Homo sapiens: one gene and its partner. The protein of the gene in region 1 purifies or fractionates together with the protein of each later gene. This does not show direct contact. Each region holds a gene or a part of one and is shown on either strand. Other genes may lie near its edges.

The links. Proteins that work in one complex are often made in the same cells at the same time.
Region 2: the proteins of GDI2 (region 1) and RAB1A purify together in Homo sapiens (affinity purification with mass spectrometry; 7 studies listed by BioGRID and IntAct, with this or other methods). This does not show direct contact.

The regions. Positions count from the first base shown.
Region 1 is NC_000010.11:5,782,401-5,789,469, forward strand, and holds part of GDI2 (rab GDP dissociation inhibitor beta), read right to left. Parts: intron 3,651-7,069; coding exon 3,452-3,650; intron 2,874-3,451; coding exon 2,742-2,873; intron 1-2,741. UniProt on the Homo sapiens protein: GDP-dissociation inhibitor preventing the GDP to GTP exchange of most Rab proteins. By keeping these small GTPases in their inactive GDP-bound form regulates intracellular membrane trafficking.
Region 2 is NC_000002.12:65,127,107-65,134,774, forward strand, and holds the start of RAB1A (ras-related protein Rab-1A), read right to left. Parts: upstream 3,001-7,668; 5' UTR 2,810-3,000; coding exon 2,787-2,809; intron 1-2,786. UniProt on the Homo sapiens protein: The small GTPases Rab are key regulators of intracellular membrane trafficking, from the formation of transport vesicles to their fusion with membranes.

The DNA of each region.
Region 1 (7,069 bases):
ACTGTTTTACAGTTTCTTATGAATTCAGACTTCTATCTGCCACATTAGTCAGCAATTTCACTCCCAGTATTTACCCAAAAGGAAATGAAAACCTATATCCCCACAGAAAGTGTTTTACATAAAAATTTCACAGTGCCTTCATTCATAATAGCCAAAAACTGAAAACTAACTAGATGTCCACCAAAAGGAGAATTATATGCTCATATAATTCATACAAAGGAATTCTACTCAACAATTAAAAAAAAAGAATTGGCCAGGCACAATGGCTCACACCTGTAATCCCAGCACATTGGGAGGCCAAGGTGGGTGGATCACTTGAGGTCAGGAGTTCAAGACCAGACTGACCAACATGGTGAAACCCCATCACTACTAAATATAAAAAATTAGCCGGATGTGGTGGTGCATGCCTGTAATCCCAGCTCCTTGGGAGGCTGAGGCAGGAGAATCACTGGAACCCAGGGGGTGGAGGTTGCAGTGAGCTGAGACTGCACCACAGCACTCCAGCCTGGGCAACAAGAGTGGAACTCCATCTCCAAAAAAAAGAATTACTGACACATGCATCAATATGGATGAATCTCAAAAAATGAAAAAGACACAAATGAGAACATATTGTATTATTCCTTTTACATGAACTTTGAAAACAAGCAAAAGTAATCTATAGTGACAGAAATCACAGAGGTGGTTGCTGGGGATGGGGGGCAGTATTCATTATGAGGTGACACAAGGGAACTTTATGGGGTGAGGAAAATGTTCTATACCTTCACTCAGGTTTTAGTTAAACCCAGGACAGGGATAGGTCTATAAATTTATCAAACTGATTTTTTTTAAAATATATATAGTTATAAAATAAAAAATATAAGAATAGCTACTTCTGCTCGCTTCTGGTGTCCATTTACATGAAATATATTTTTCCACCCCTTTACCTTAAATTTGAGTCCTTTTGTGTCTGGTGAATCTCTTGAAGACAGCAGATACTTGGTTGATGAGTTCTTATCCATTCTGCTATTCTGTATCTTTAAAGTGGAGCATGTAGGCCATTTACATTCAACATTAGTATTGAGATTTGAGGTACTATTCTATTCATCGTGCTATTTGTTTGCCTGAACACCTTGTTTTTTTTCTTCATTGTGTTATTGTTTTATAGGTCCTGTGTGATTTATGCTTTAAGGAGATACAATTTTGGTATTTTGAGAATTTGTTTCAAGATTTGGAGCTCCTTTTAGCAGTTCTTGTAGTGCTGGCTTGGTAGTGGCAAATTCTCTCAGCACTTGTTTGTGTGAAAAAGACTACTTTCCTTCATTTATGAAGCTCTGTTTCACTGGATACAAAATTACTGGCTGATAACTTAAGGAGGCTCAAGATAGGATCCCAATCCCTTCTAGCTTTTAGAGTTTCTGCTGAGAAATCTGTTAATCTGATAGGTTTTCCTTTATAGGTTACCTGAGGCTTTTGACTCACAGCTCTTAAGATTCTTTCCTTCATCTTGACTTTAGTTAACCTGATGACTATGTGCCTAGGTGATGATCTTTTTGTGATGAATTTCCCAGGTGTTCTTTAAGCTTCTTGTATTTGGATGTCTAGATCTCTAGCAAGGCCGGGGAAGTTTTCCTCAATTAATCCCTCAAATTTGTTTTCCAAACTTTTAGATTCTTCTTCTTCCTTGGGAACACCAATTATTCTTAGGCTTGGTTGTTTAACAAACTTATTGGAGGCTGCGTTCATTTTTTTAAATTCTTTTTTGTCTTTGTCAGATTGGGCTAATTCAAAAGCCTTGTCTTCGAACTCTGAAATTTCTTTCTTCTACTTATTCAATTCTATTGCTGAGACTTTCCAGTGCATTTTGCATGTCTCTAAGTGTGTCCCTTGATTTTCAGAAGTTGTGATTATTTATTTATGCTATTTTCCTGGAAATTTTTCCATTCATATCCTGTATCACTTTTTTTGTTTTGCTAAGTTGGACTTCACCTTTCTCTCGTGCCTCCTTGATTGGCGTAATAATGACCTTGTGAATTCTTTTTCTGGCAATTCAGAGATTTTTGTCTTGGTTTAGATCCATTGCTGGTAAGCTAGTGTGACCTTTTCAGAGTGTCAAAGAACCCTGTTTTGTCATATTACCCCAGTTGTTTTTCCAGTTCCTTCTCATCTGGATAGACTATGTCAGAGGGAAGATCTGGAACTCAAGGGCTGCTGTTCAGATTCTTTTGTCCCACAGGGATGCTCCCTTGATGTGGTGCTCTCCCCTTTCCCCTAGGGATGGGGCTTCCTGAGAGCCAAACTGCAGTGATTGTTATTTCTCTTCTTGATCTAGCCGCCCAGTGGAGATAATCAGGCTCTAAGCTGGTACTGGAGAGTGTCTGCAAAGAGTCCTGTGATGTGATCTGTCTCCAGGTCTCTCAGGCGTGGATACCAGCACTTACTCTGGTGGAGGTAACAGGGGTGTGAAGTAGATTCTGTGAAGGTCCTTGGTTGTATTTTTGTTAAGTGCGCTGGTTTTGTATTGGCTGGCCTCCAGCCAGGAGTTGGCACTTACAAGAGCACATCAGCTACAGTTGTATAAAACTGGATTTTTTTTAACTGAAGATCCATGCATATCATTATATGTTAATTTTATTTCAATAAAAATAAAAAGCATCTTATTACTCATAGACTGATCTCATCTCATTATTTAAACTATATCTCATATACACATTATGTTGAAGATGAGGTTTTGGATCACTGAGGTTTTAAACACAGGCTCTTACCTTGCAAATCCTTGGGGCAGTTCTCCAAGGCCATAGAGTGGATAAAGGTATGGGCTTTTGCCATATCTTGCCAAAGATTCACTGTAAAGTTTAATTCTATTAATGGTTTCATAACACGGTTGATCTAAGTAACTGGAAGAAAGGAAATGAGTATTAGGAAAGGGCTTTAGTTTTCATTCATGGTGTTCAATTTATAATTTTTTTTGAAGCGATTTCAATCCGCTATCTTCTTTTTTGTTTTTTTGTTTTTTGAGACAGGGTCTCACTCTGTCGCCCAGACTGGAGTGCAGTGGTGCAATCTCGGCTCCCCACAACTTCCACCTCCCAGGCTCAAGTGATTCTTCTGCCTCAGCCTCCCAAGTGGCTGGAATTACAGGGACGCACCACTACCGCCCAACTAATTTTTGCATTTTTAGTAGAGAGGGGGTTTCACCATGTTGGCCAGGCTGGTCTTGAACTCCTGACCTCAAATGATCCACCCAACTTGGCCTCCCAAAGTGCTGGGATCACAGGCGTGAGCCACCACACCTGGCCCACTACCTTTATATTTAAATCACTTAAAAGGTCCCAACACTAATTTCAACTAGAACCTCTTCATTCATAGTGCAATATGGCTAAGTATTTGTTTTGTTAGAATTTCCACTTGGAAGACTTGGGAAATTTAGTGAGAATTTCAAGAAAAATACAAATCTAAAAACCAAAATACTTACTCATCAGTTCTGTAAAGTGCAAGAGCATGACCAGTAAAATCTATAACGTCTTGACCCAAATCAAATTTCTTATACACATCTCGCATTGTGGTCTTCTTAGGATCAATGCCTTCAAAAGTTCTTGGATCTTTTTCATCGAAGTTGGCAACATACACTAGGAATTTCCTGAAGCGACGTTTTTCAAACAATCCCATTAGGCCTAAATAAAAAAGAATTTTTCAAAAAGCACACTCACAATCAGACATTGAGGAGAACGAAGTATGAGAGCAAAGTTTAAACATGCCTTGTTATCAACTGCGGAATGCAGGATGCAATTTTTTTTTTTTTTTTTTTTTTTGAGACAGAGTCTTGCTCTGTCGCCTAGACTGGAGTGCAATGACGCAATCTCAGCTCACTGCAACCTCTGCCTCCCGTGTTCAAGCGATTCTCCTGTCTCAGCCTCCCGAGTAGCTGGGATTATAGGCAACCGCCATTACGCCCAGCTAATTTTTGTACTTTTGGTAGAAACAAGGTTTCACCATGTTAGGCTGGTCTCAAACTCCTGACCTCAGGTGATCCGCCCACCACGGCCTCCCAAAGTGCTGAGATTACAGGCATGAGCCACCGCGCCTAAAATGCAGGATGCAATTTAAGATATGGGAGTTTGGACAGCATGGCTTCCAGTTTCACAACACCTTAAACTGACACGATTATAACAGGTTACTTATAAAGTCTTCAATTCTACCATACAATTACAAGTAATTAAAACTACTACTTAACTGAATGAAAAATGTCAAATTATGTTTCTTACTAGGTACAAGGTAAATGTGACTCTGAACAAGTATCCATGAAGCCACCCATCTGAAGAGTCTCCCTTTGACAACTCTGATCTACACTCAGCCAATTGCCTAAATTCTGAATGCTCTTGCTTTTCCGCCTCTGTATGCTAAGATACAACCGGGCACTTAATGATAACAGCTTAAGATAACAAGAACAAATTGACCTCGATAAAATTTCGATGCTGCTGCTACTGCTGCTAGTCACTTATTTTACTGAAGTCCTACATAAGCAACCAATTCGCTGCATTTTACACTAAAAAACAGATGAAGAAGCTACAAATTACCACTTTATAAATCCTCAGCTTTTATTACTAGGCTGTATTTCAACTAATCATAGATGATAGACAAATAGCCAACAAAAAAGAAAATTTTCTGATTTTATCTCCCTTCTCCCCCCATTCCTAAGCTGTACAGCTATTTTTAAAATACAACTACAGTTTTAAAAACAAACTCTCAAATGTTTCTATTGACAGCTTAATGTTTTGATAGATTTAATATTACATCCAAGATCATTTTCCAGCCAACAAAACTGAAAATTAAAACCATGAGGCTGGTCAGGTCGTAGTGGCTCACGCCTATAATCCCAGCACTTTGGAAGGCTGAGGAGGGTGGATCGCTTGAGGTCAGGAGTTCAAGACCAGCCTGACCAACATGGTGAAACCCCATCTCTACTAAAAATACAAAATTAGCTGGGTGTGGTGGCGCACGCCTGTAATCCCAACTACTTGGAAGGCTGGAGCAGGAGAATCGCTTGATAAACCCAGGAGTCAGAGATTGCACTGAGCCGAGATTGCACCATTGTACTCCAGCCTGGGCAACAAGAGTGAGACTCCGTCTCAAAAAAAAAAAAGAAACATGAGGCTATTAATGACAACTGACTACATTTAATTTTTTAAAATTAAGATTTACAATTCAGCCTTTTAAATGGACAGAATGTACACACAGTAAAGGCATAAGGCTGAATAGAAATATCCTATTACCACATCAGCACTATACTTAAGACACAAGTGTAGTTGTAAGAGCTGGGTATAAGACAGGCAAAAGGAAACATGAATCACTATTTCAATGCACTTAAAACTTAGGTATCATATTCCGGTCGGCACAGCCTGTCAGAACTTAAAGCTATTACTAACAGTTATTTTGGAGTATCTCCCAACTTTTGTTTATTTAATAGAAACCTGAGTTGCTGTTACCAACTTTTGTTTTAATCAAAATAAAAATCTATCATGTTTCCTTCTCTTTCCTCTCCTTTATTTTCCTCCATTACCTGATCCTTACCCAGAGAGGGATAGAAATCAGTGCCACTCCTGTTTTACACAGCACAGTAGAGACGTCCTGGCTGTTTTTCCATCCCTTAATTCCATGTTGCTATGCATGGCGCCAAATAGTGATCTCAATGACTAGCTGTTAACAGCATGAGAACCAGATATAATTGTATTACAAATACTTCAAACACCCAGTGCTCATTCTGAAAAACTCCTAATTGAAAAAGTTCAAATCAATAACGTGTTTCCTACTGTGTTTTTTTTTTTTCCATAGAAACAAGGTCTCGCCATGTTGCCCAGGCTGGTCTCAAACTCCCAGGCTCCTAAAGTGTGGAATCACAGGTGTGAGCCACTGCACCTAGTCCCTACTAGGTAGATAATTTTTTACAACTACTATTTATCTATGCTGATGCCTTCCCAGATCACTTTATTTAAAGCGTCCTTCTCACACTCCCTCCTTCCTCTTTCCCCCACAGCAATGGATCACCATGGGATATGCCTTTCTGTATTTACAGTTGTCCCTTGAATAACACATCTGAACTGCCACTTTTTATGTAGATCAGAGGTGTCCAATTTTTTGGCTTCCCTGGGCCACGTTGGAAGAAAAAGAATTGCCTTGGGCCACACATAAAATACACTAACGATAGCTAATGAGCTTTAAAAAAATTGTGAAAAAAAATCTCATGTTTTAAGAAAGTTAACAAATTTCTGTTGGGCTGCATTCAAAGCTACCCTGGACCACATGCAGCCCATAGGCCACAGACAGGACAAGCTTGATGTAGATTTTTTCTTGTCAATAAATGTACTGAAAAAATTTTTGGAGGTTTGCATGTTTTTTTTTTTTTAAAAGGAGTCTCACTCTGTCGCCCAGGCTAGAGTGCGCAGTGGCGCGATTTCGGCTCACTGCAACCTCTGCCCCTGAGGTTCAAGCAATACTCCCACCTAAGCATCCCGAGTAGCTAGGATTAAAGGCATGCACCATCAGACCTGGCTAATTTTTTTTTGTATTTTTAGTAGAGATGGGGTTTCACCATGTTGGACAGGCTGGTGTCAAACTCCTGACCTCAAGTGATCCGCCTGCCTCAGCCTCCCAAAGTGCTGGGATGACAGGCATGAGCCACTATGCCCAGCCAGGTTTGTTTTTTCTTTCAGTTCTACGTTTTATTTTACTTGATTTTTTTTTTTTCCTTTTTGAGATGAGATCTCTGTCACCCAGACTAGAGTGCAGTGGCGCAACCACAGCTCACTGCAGCCACCAACTTCCTGGGCTCAAGCAATCTTCCTGCATCAGCCTCCTGAGTAGCTGGGACTACAGGGTATTCAGCTAATTTTTCTTCTATTTCTTGTAGATACAGGGGTCTTACTATGTTGCCCAGGCTGATCTCGAACTCTCGGGCTCAAGTGATCCACCCACCTCAACCTCCCAAAGTGCTAGGATTACAGCCATGAGCCACAGTAGCCGGCCAAATGATTTTTTTTTTAAGAGATAGGGTCTTGCTATATAAGGATATATCGTCCAGGCTAGAGGTGCAGTG
Region 2 (7,668 bases), on another chromosome or scaffold:
CCAGAAAAAATATAAAAACTGTTTCTGGGTTTGATCCCTTTGAGGTCATTAGTCTTCAAAAGAAAGGATGATTTGACACCGTATTTACTTATTAATTACTGTCCTTGTCATTTATGAGCCATTCCTCCTTCTTCTCCCCCTTGAAAATTCCTAGTCACTCCCTCTGTTCCTCCAAATCTAATTGCTGATAAATCCCTTTCAGGTCTCTCTTCTATAAAGTCTTCCAAAACCCAGATAGCCAACCACAACCCACCATCCCCCTGAAATCTTGTTGCTCTCATCCATGCCACACATCTGGAATTTGCTATATCTACTGGTATTTGACATGTATAAAATCTATTTCTGCCGGGCGCGGTGGCTCACGCCTGTAATCCCAACACTTTGGGAAGCTGAGGCGGGCGGATCACTTCGGGAGTTTGAGACCAGCCTGACCAACATGGAGAAACCCCGTCTCTACCAAAAATACAAAATTAGCCGGGAGTGGTGGCACATGCCTGTAATCCCAACTTCTCGGGAATCTGAGGCAGGAGAATCACTTGAACCCAGGAGGCGGAGGTGGCGGTGAGAGGAGATTTGCGCCATTGCACTCCAGCCTGGGCAACAAGATTGAAACTCCGTCTCAAAACAATAAATAATTTTTTTTTTGAGACGGAGTCTTGCTCTGTCGTCCAGGCTGGAGTGCAGTGGCCAGATCTTGGTTCACTGCAAGCTCCACCTCCCGGGATCACGCCATTCTCCTGCCTCAGCCTCTCGAGTAGCTGGGACTACAGGTGCCCACCACCACGCCCGGCTAATTTTTTTGCATTTTTAGTAGAGACGGGGTTTCACCGTGTTACCGAGGATGGTCTCGATCTCCTGACCTCGGGATCCGCCCGCCTCGGCCTCCCAAAGTGCTGGGATTACTGAGGTGAGCCACCGCGCCTGGCCTATATCTAAACTTCTTAAGCGCAAGGATTATATTCCTAAATCCTGGTACTAATAGAATGCCTTTCATGAAAATGATGCATACCACCTGAAGAATGCTCACACGGTTTTTCAAATTCTTTTATATACATTTGAATTTCACCACTACCCTGACAGGAATAATGACTCCAATTATCCTATTTTACAAAAGGGAAAAAAAATTCAGAGGCTGAGTAACTTGTCAAAGTTCTCAACTAATCTTGAAGATTTATTTACACTAATAAACATATATATAGCAAATTCAGAAAATTTCCTGAACAGTAGAGGTCTATAAACCTCGATAAAGCAGTAAATCCATGTTCTTTATTGTTACCAAGAAAACTACTAAATTAAGAACCTCAAGTTCACCTCCGTTCAACTGTGCAAAACCAACTTTGTCCTTGGAGCCCTTGAAAAAAAATTTTTTTTAAACTGTCAACACAGCAAATGTCACTACAAGAACACTACCCTCAACTTCTAAAACATGAAATTCTAATAAAATACTACGGTTTCTGTTTAGTGCAAAAGATTTCAGCTTCAAGCCACACTATTACAAAACTTGTAAGCATTTTGCAAGAGCCATGTGACACACATATGACAGTCAGCTAAACTGGTGGGTGGACCTTTTAGGGGAAAATGTCTAGCAGTAATTGACCAAACCAGCAAATAAACTCAACTTTTACAACAAATACTGATGTTCCCCCATCCCTCAAAGGCCTTTGACACTGAAAAGGAATACCAATTCGGTCTCTTCCAATTATTCATTACTTTACATGCATGTAAACTGTAGAGGAAATTTTTAAAGGGCCATTGAGGAGAGCCCAACAAACTCTACCCAAGGGAAGTGAACACCAGTTCCCAGGAAAGGTGCCAGGTGTGTCACATCTGCTGTGGTGACTTCTTGAGTAAGCAAGAAAAAGAAATGCATTAACTTTTCATGACACGTCATGGAACCTCATTCCCTATCTGCAAGCATCCAAGCAGGTAATCCAAAACCTACATACAGATCTATCATAGGTCCCGTTCGTTTCTCTTTCAACTTGACAGCAAGCTTCCTTTAATCTGCGAGTATCAAAAAGACATTTCTTGGCTTTAGTTTTTTTTTTTTCCCTTGACCCACAGAAGACAAAATGACTTAGGTGTCCTCTTTAAAAAAAAAAAAAACAAAATTCTCACAAATGCCCAGGTTTTTATAGGAGGGCAATGGACCCGGCGAGCTCTTAAACAACTCCTCCAAGACACAACTCAAAAAGAGAACTAATAAATGTTCAGTTGCTTCTCACCATCTACTCATTCCCCTCAATCCCACGCAGTCCCGAAAAGCATCCATATTACCTGAAACCTGGCGGGGAGGATGGAAGGAGAGAGAGCCAACAAGCTCAGGATTTACAAGTAAAGCTGGTTTCTACCCCGAAGATCCTGACAGCTCCGCAGAGTGCGGGCGCAGGGTCTGACAGTGCCCTCTAGAAGGGCTCTCCCACCCCATCCCCTCCCCTTAGAGACAAGTCCTCCTTCAAAAGTCACTGCCTCCGAGAGAAGATACCCCTTCACACCGCCCCAGGCCCCTCGGCAGGCTTCCTCAGCACCCGCCCCGCAGTCAGGCCCTCTAACCTGACCCGGTCCAGGCCCGGGCGGCTCACCCCTCCGGCCCGACCCCTCCCCCGCGCGGCCGCCCCTCCGCGTCAGACAATGGGGCCCGACTCCCGGCCGCCAGCCTCTCCTGACCCATCACCCTCGCCTCACCCCAGCCGATGCCCCGACTTCTGCCCCAACCCTCCTCGACCCCTTTAAGATCCCCCAAGCTGGCCCACGGACCCAGCCGACCGGTGCTCTCCTGAACTCACTATTCGGGATTCATGCTGGACATGTCACTGCAGCTGCCGCCGCCGCCACCGCCGCCCTTGCTGCCGCAGCCGCCGCCCTGACTCTCCGCGCCACGGGTAATCGAAAGAAAGGAATGAGATAGGCTGTTCCGGGAGAGCAAACGTCTTCCCCTACTCCGTCCCCTAGAACACAATCAGCAGCCGCCGCCACTCAGCTATCGCTTCCACCCAAAATGGCCGCCGGCGAACCAGGAAATAGGGAAGCCTTAGACCGAGGGGCCTTTACACGGCCCAGAGGGCGGCCGCACCGCCTGGCATGCCGGGAAAGGGAGTCGCGAGCGCGGCTACGCGAGCTGAGGACAGACAGTGCGACGCAAGGCCAGGACTCAGCTTCCCGCCAAGCGCCGCGCCTCTGGGGCATGCGTACCTGAAGGGTTGTCGCCCGCCCCATTCCCCACTCCCTCACCTCCCCACCCTCGGCCCCTCCCTGCTCCCCTCCCCTCTGACTCGCTGGCTAGGACTTCGCTCGGACTCCCCCTGGCGGATTGGCTAAGGCCGAGCTGCCCTAGTGATGTCATCAGTGAGACGTGGCAGCCGGGCGAGTCAGCGCCCCACGGGGGAGGGGGCGGAGAGGGGCGGAGGGTGGTGCCGGCGGCCGACGGAGGCTGGGGGTCGGGGGAGGCAAGGGACCGGGGGGAGTGGTCAAACCGGAGGGACTGCCGGGGGTGCGGGGGCGGGGAGGGGGCCGGGGTACGAGCGTGTCGGCTCCTGCCTCCGTTGCGGCTGTTGCTGACCTGACCAGCTTGAGGCTTGCGCCACCCTGGTGGCGCTGGTTGGGGGCTGGTAGGAGGACGTCCGCTCTAAGAACAGAAGGGAAGTCAAGGGGCTCCCTGGACGGCACGGAGCGGTTCTTCTCGTCACTCACCCATCCCCACCTGGGTTCGGTCATCGTCCATTGTTGGCCCCGCGCACTACCATTTTCTTCTTAGATTTCTTCCCATTCTTACTGTGCCCCGCTCTTAACTCGTCAGCCTGGCTATTGCAGTAGTCTCCAAATGGACTCTACCTCTCTCTCTCCTCTCCGCCCCAGCCCATTTGCACACACAGTCGGATGTATCTTTCTGAGACAGCACCTGCATCGTGACCCCACAACCTTCAATGGCTCCACATCCCATGGATGGGAGGGACACAGCCCAGAGCCAGCCTAAAATCCAATTCCTACCTTCGTCCCGGCCTTCAGGTTGAATTGTAATGTATTATCTTTTAGTTGCTACTAACCCTGAGCCATTCTGCAAGACTGGAAAATAATAAGCAATAAAAATAGGCAATTCATCACTATATAGTGCCTACAATTTCTGGGAGTAATATTAACTCATTTTTAAAAAACCTATGGCCTTAACAGCTCTCTTTAATCAGCTCAGGAATTTAAATCTCCGCTAAACTTTAACACATTATCTTGAGTTATTTAATTACAAAGGGCATAGTGTAATACATTGTCCAAAGTTTATCTTCCAACTTCTAAGAACTAAGAAAATTGTCTCCTGAGACTTACTGCAGAATCACTTTAAATTCCTACAACGCCAAAATATAGAAAGAAGGCACTTATTTCTACCCATACACTAATTACACCCCTTAGCCCTCAAATTCTGCCATGGGCCTTAGTTGATGAACTTATCAAAAGTTACCCGAGTTTGGTTTCTGAAATGAACATGTTGGTTTCTGAAATGAACACGGTCACCACCCCAGGAATACCCTGAATGGTTCAGTAATAGGCACCAAAAAGTGTTCGTTACCCTGGACTCTAAAGCCCATTAAAAAAAAAAAAAGCTTATTTTGATTTCAAATAAAAACTCAGAAAACTGGCCAGGCTCGGTGGCTCATGCCTGTAATCTCAGGAATTTGAGAGGCCAAAACGGACAGATCACGAGGTCAGGAATTCAAGACCAGCCTGGCCAACATGGTGAAACACTGTCTCTACTAAAAATACAAAAATTAGCCAGGCATGGTGGCGCGTGCCTGTAATCCCAGCTACTCGGGAGGCTGAGGCAGGAAAATTGCTTGAACCCGGGAGGCGGAGGCTACAGTGGGCCGAGAGGCCACTGCACTCCAGCCTGGGCGACAGAGCAAGATTCTGTCTTGAGGGGAGAAAAAAAATCTCAGAAAACTGTGACCTGAGTCACTAGTAAAGGCACACACACACACACACACACACACACACCCCCAAAAAACCCTCAGAAAACTGTCCAGAACTCGTCCTCAGCCAAAAATACAATCTGTCCTCCCCTGGGAAGTATACTCCCAAACTTCCTTTAATTAACTATTTTCTTTCCCAACAAAGAATTACCCCCTGCCAGGCGCAGTGGCTCACGCCTGTAATCCCAACACTTTGGGAGGCCAAGGCGGGCAGATTATGAGGTCAGGAGATCGAGACCATCCTGGCCAACATGGTGAAACCCCGTCTCTGCTAAAAATACAAAAATTAGCTGGGCGTGGTGGCGTGTGGCACGTGAGATTACAGAATCTCAGCTACTCGGGAGGCTGAGGCAGGAGAATGGCTTGAACCAGGGAGTCAGAGGTTGTAGTGAGCCGAGATCGCGCCACTGCACTCCAGCCTGGCAACAGAGCGAGACTCAGTCTCAACAACAACCACCAAAAAAAAAAAAATTACCTCCTAGTAGCTTTTAATCTAAGTGACAGGATAGCTGTAAGCGTTGAATAAACACAATGTAAAGCATATAGTACAATGGCTTTGGGACCCTTGGTAAATGTTAATTACTTTTCTCTGTAGGAGAGCAAAAAAATGACTTCCCTCCACCCTGCTAGGTTCCTTGGCTAGTTTATGAACTAAATTAACCTAAGACAGATTAACAGGAGAAAATCATATTTGATTAAGTACATATGCATGGGAGTTCCTCAAAATAAGAGACTCCAAGAAGGGTCTGATGATTGAAGCATCCTGAGCTACAGAAAAGAATACGGCTTGGTGGCCGGGTGCAGTAGCTCACGCCTCTAATCCCAGCACTTTGGGAGGCCAAGGCGGGTGGATCACGAGGTCAGGACATCAAGATCATCCTGGCTAACACGGTGAAACCCAGTCTCTACTAAAAATGCAAAAACAAAATTACCTGGGCGTGGTGGCGGCTGCCTGTAGTCCCAGCTACTCGGGAGGCTGAGACAGAAGAATGGCGTGAATCCGGGAGGCGGAGCTTGCAGTCAGCTGAGATGGCACCACTGCACTCCAGCCTGGGCTACAGAGCGAGAGTCCATCTCAAAAAAAAAAAAGAATAGGGCTTGGTGCCGGGCGCGGTGGCTTACGGCTTACGGCTGTGATCCCAGCTCTTTGAGAAGCCAAGGTGGGTGGATCACTAGAGGTCAAGAGTTCGAGACCAGCCTGGCCAACCTGGCGAAACCCTGTCTCTACTAAAAACACAAAAAATTGGGCAGGCACAGTGGCTCACGCCTGTAATCCCAGCACTTTGGGAGGCCAAGGCAGGTGGATCATTTGAGGAGTTCAAGACCAGCCTGACCAATATGGTGAAAACCCGTCTCTACTAAAAATACAAAAATCAGCTGGGCATGGTGGCACATACCTGTGATCCCAGCTGCTCGGGAGGCTGAGGCAGGAGAATCGCTTGAACCTGGGAGGCGGAGATTGCAGTGAGCCGAAACTGTGCCACAGCACTCCAGCCTGGGCAACAGAGCGAGACTCAATCTCAAAAAAAAAAAAATTGAAAAAATTAGCCAGGCATGGTGGCGGGTACCTGTAATCCTAGCTACTCAGGTAGCTGAGGCAGGAGAATATCTTCAACCCGGGAGGTAGAGGTTGCAGTAAACTGAGATCACACCACTGTACTCCAGCCTAGGTGACAGAGCAAGACTCCATCTCAAAAAAAAAAACAAAACTGGGGCTTGGGGCCTTCGGAGAGGTAATGATAAGCTACAGGAGGGCAAGAGGGGAAATGCATGGTAAAGAAAGATTGTCCTGCCATGCAGATAAAAAGTCTCTCAGGTAATAAAAGTTATCTTGAGGCAGCCCTCTCTCTGATATAGATACGTTACTAATGTAGATTTCCTTTGTAGACATAAACTTATTTTACAAAAGGACAGCTTTTCAGAGCTACTCCTGTGTCTACAGTTTCTTAGAATAACCAGCTCAAAATATGCCACCAAAGAAGAATATTTTAGGAGAGCATATTCTGGTCCCCCAGAGTGATATTTGAGGTGGTATGTCCTGGTCCCCAACATCTACTTCTCTCAGCTTCTCTGAAAGTCTTAAGTGTACCTGCTGTGTACCAAGGACAGAAAGCCTCATAGCTTAGCTTCCGTGTTGTAGAATATTATGCGAAGAGGTCAGAGGCAGCTTAGCCTGGGAATGGTAGGTGGGTGTTTTCTACCCCCACTGAAATTTATGTGCAATTACATTAAGACTTCCTTTCCAAATTTAAAGTGGCTAAAAATTAAACTTTTTAAAAGTTTTGCTGACTCAAACTTTAATATATATATTTTCGTGTGTGTTTTTTTGTTGTTGTTGTTGTTGTTGTTTTGAGATGGAGTCTCACTCTGTCTCCCAGGCTGGAGTGCAGTGGCACGATCTCAGCTCACTGCAACCTCCCCTCTCCCGGGTTCAAGCTGTTCCCTGGCTTCAACCTCCCGAGTGGCTAGGATTACAGGTGCGCACCACCACATCCAGCTAATTTATTGTATTTTTAGTAGAGACCAGACGGGCTTTCACCATGTTGGCCAGGCTGGTCTCGAACACCTGACCTCAGGTGGTCAGCCCGTCTCAGCCTTCCAAAGTGCTGGGATTACAGGCGTGAGCTCCTGCGCCCAGCTCAAATTTTAATATATATTTTATGTTTAGGTTTTTAGAAGTAGTTACATTTCTAGCTCAAGTGAATAACTC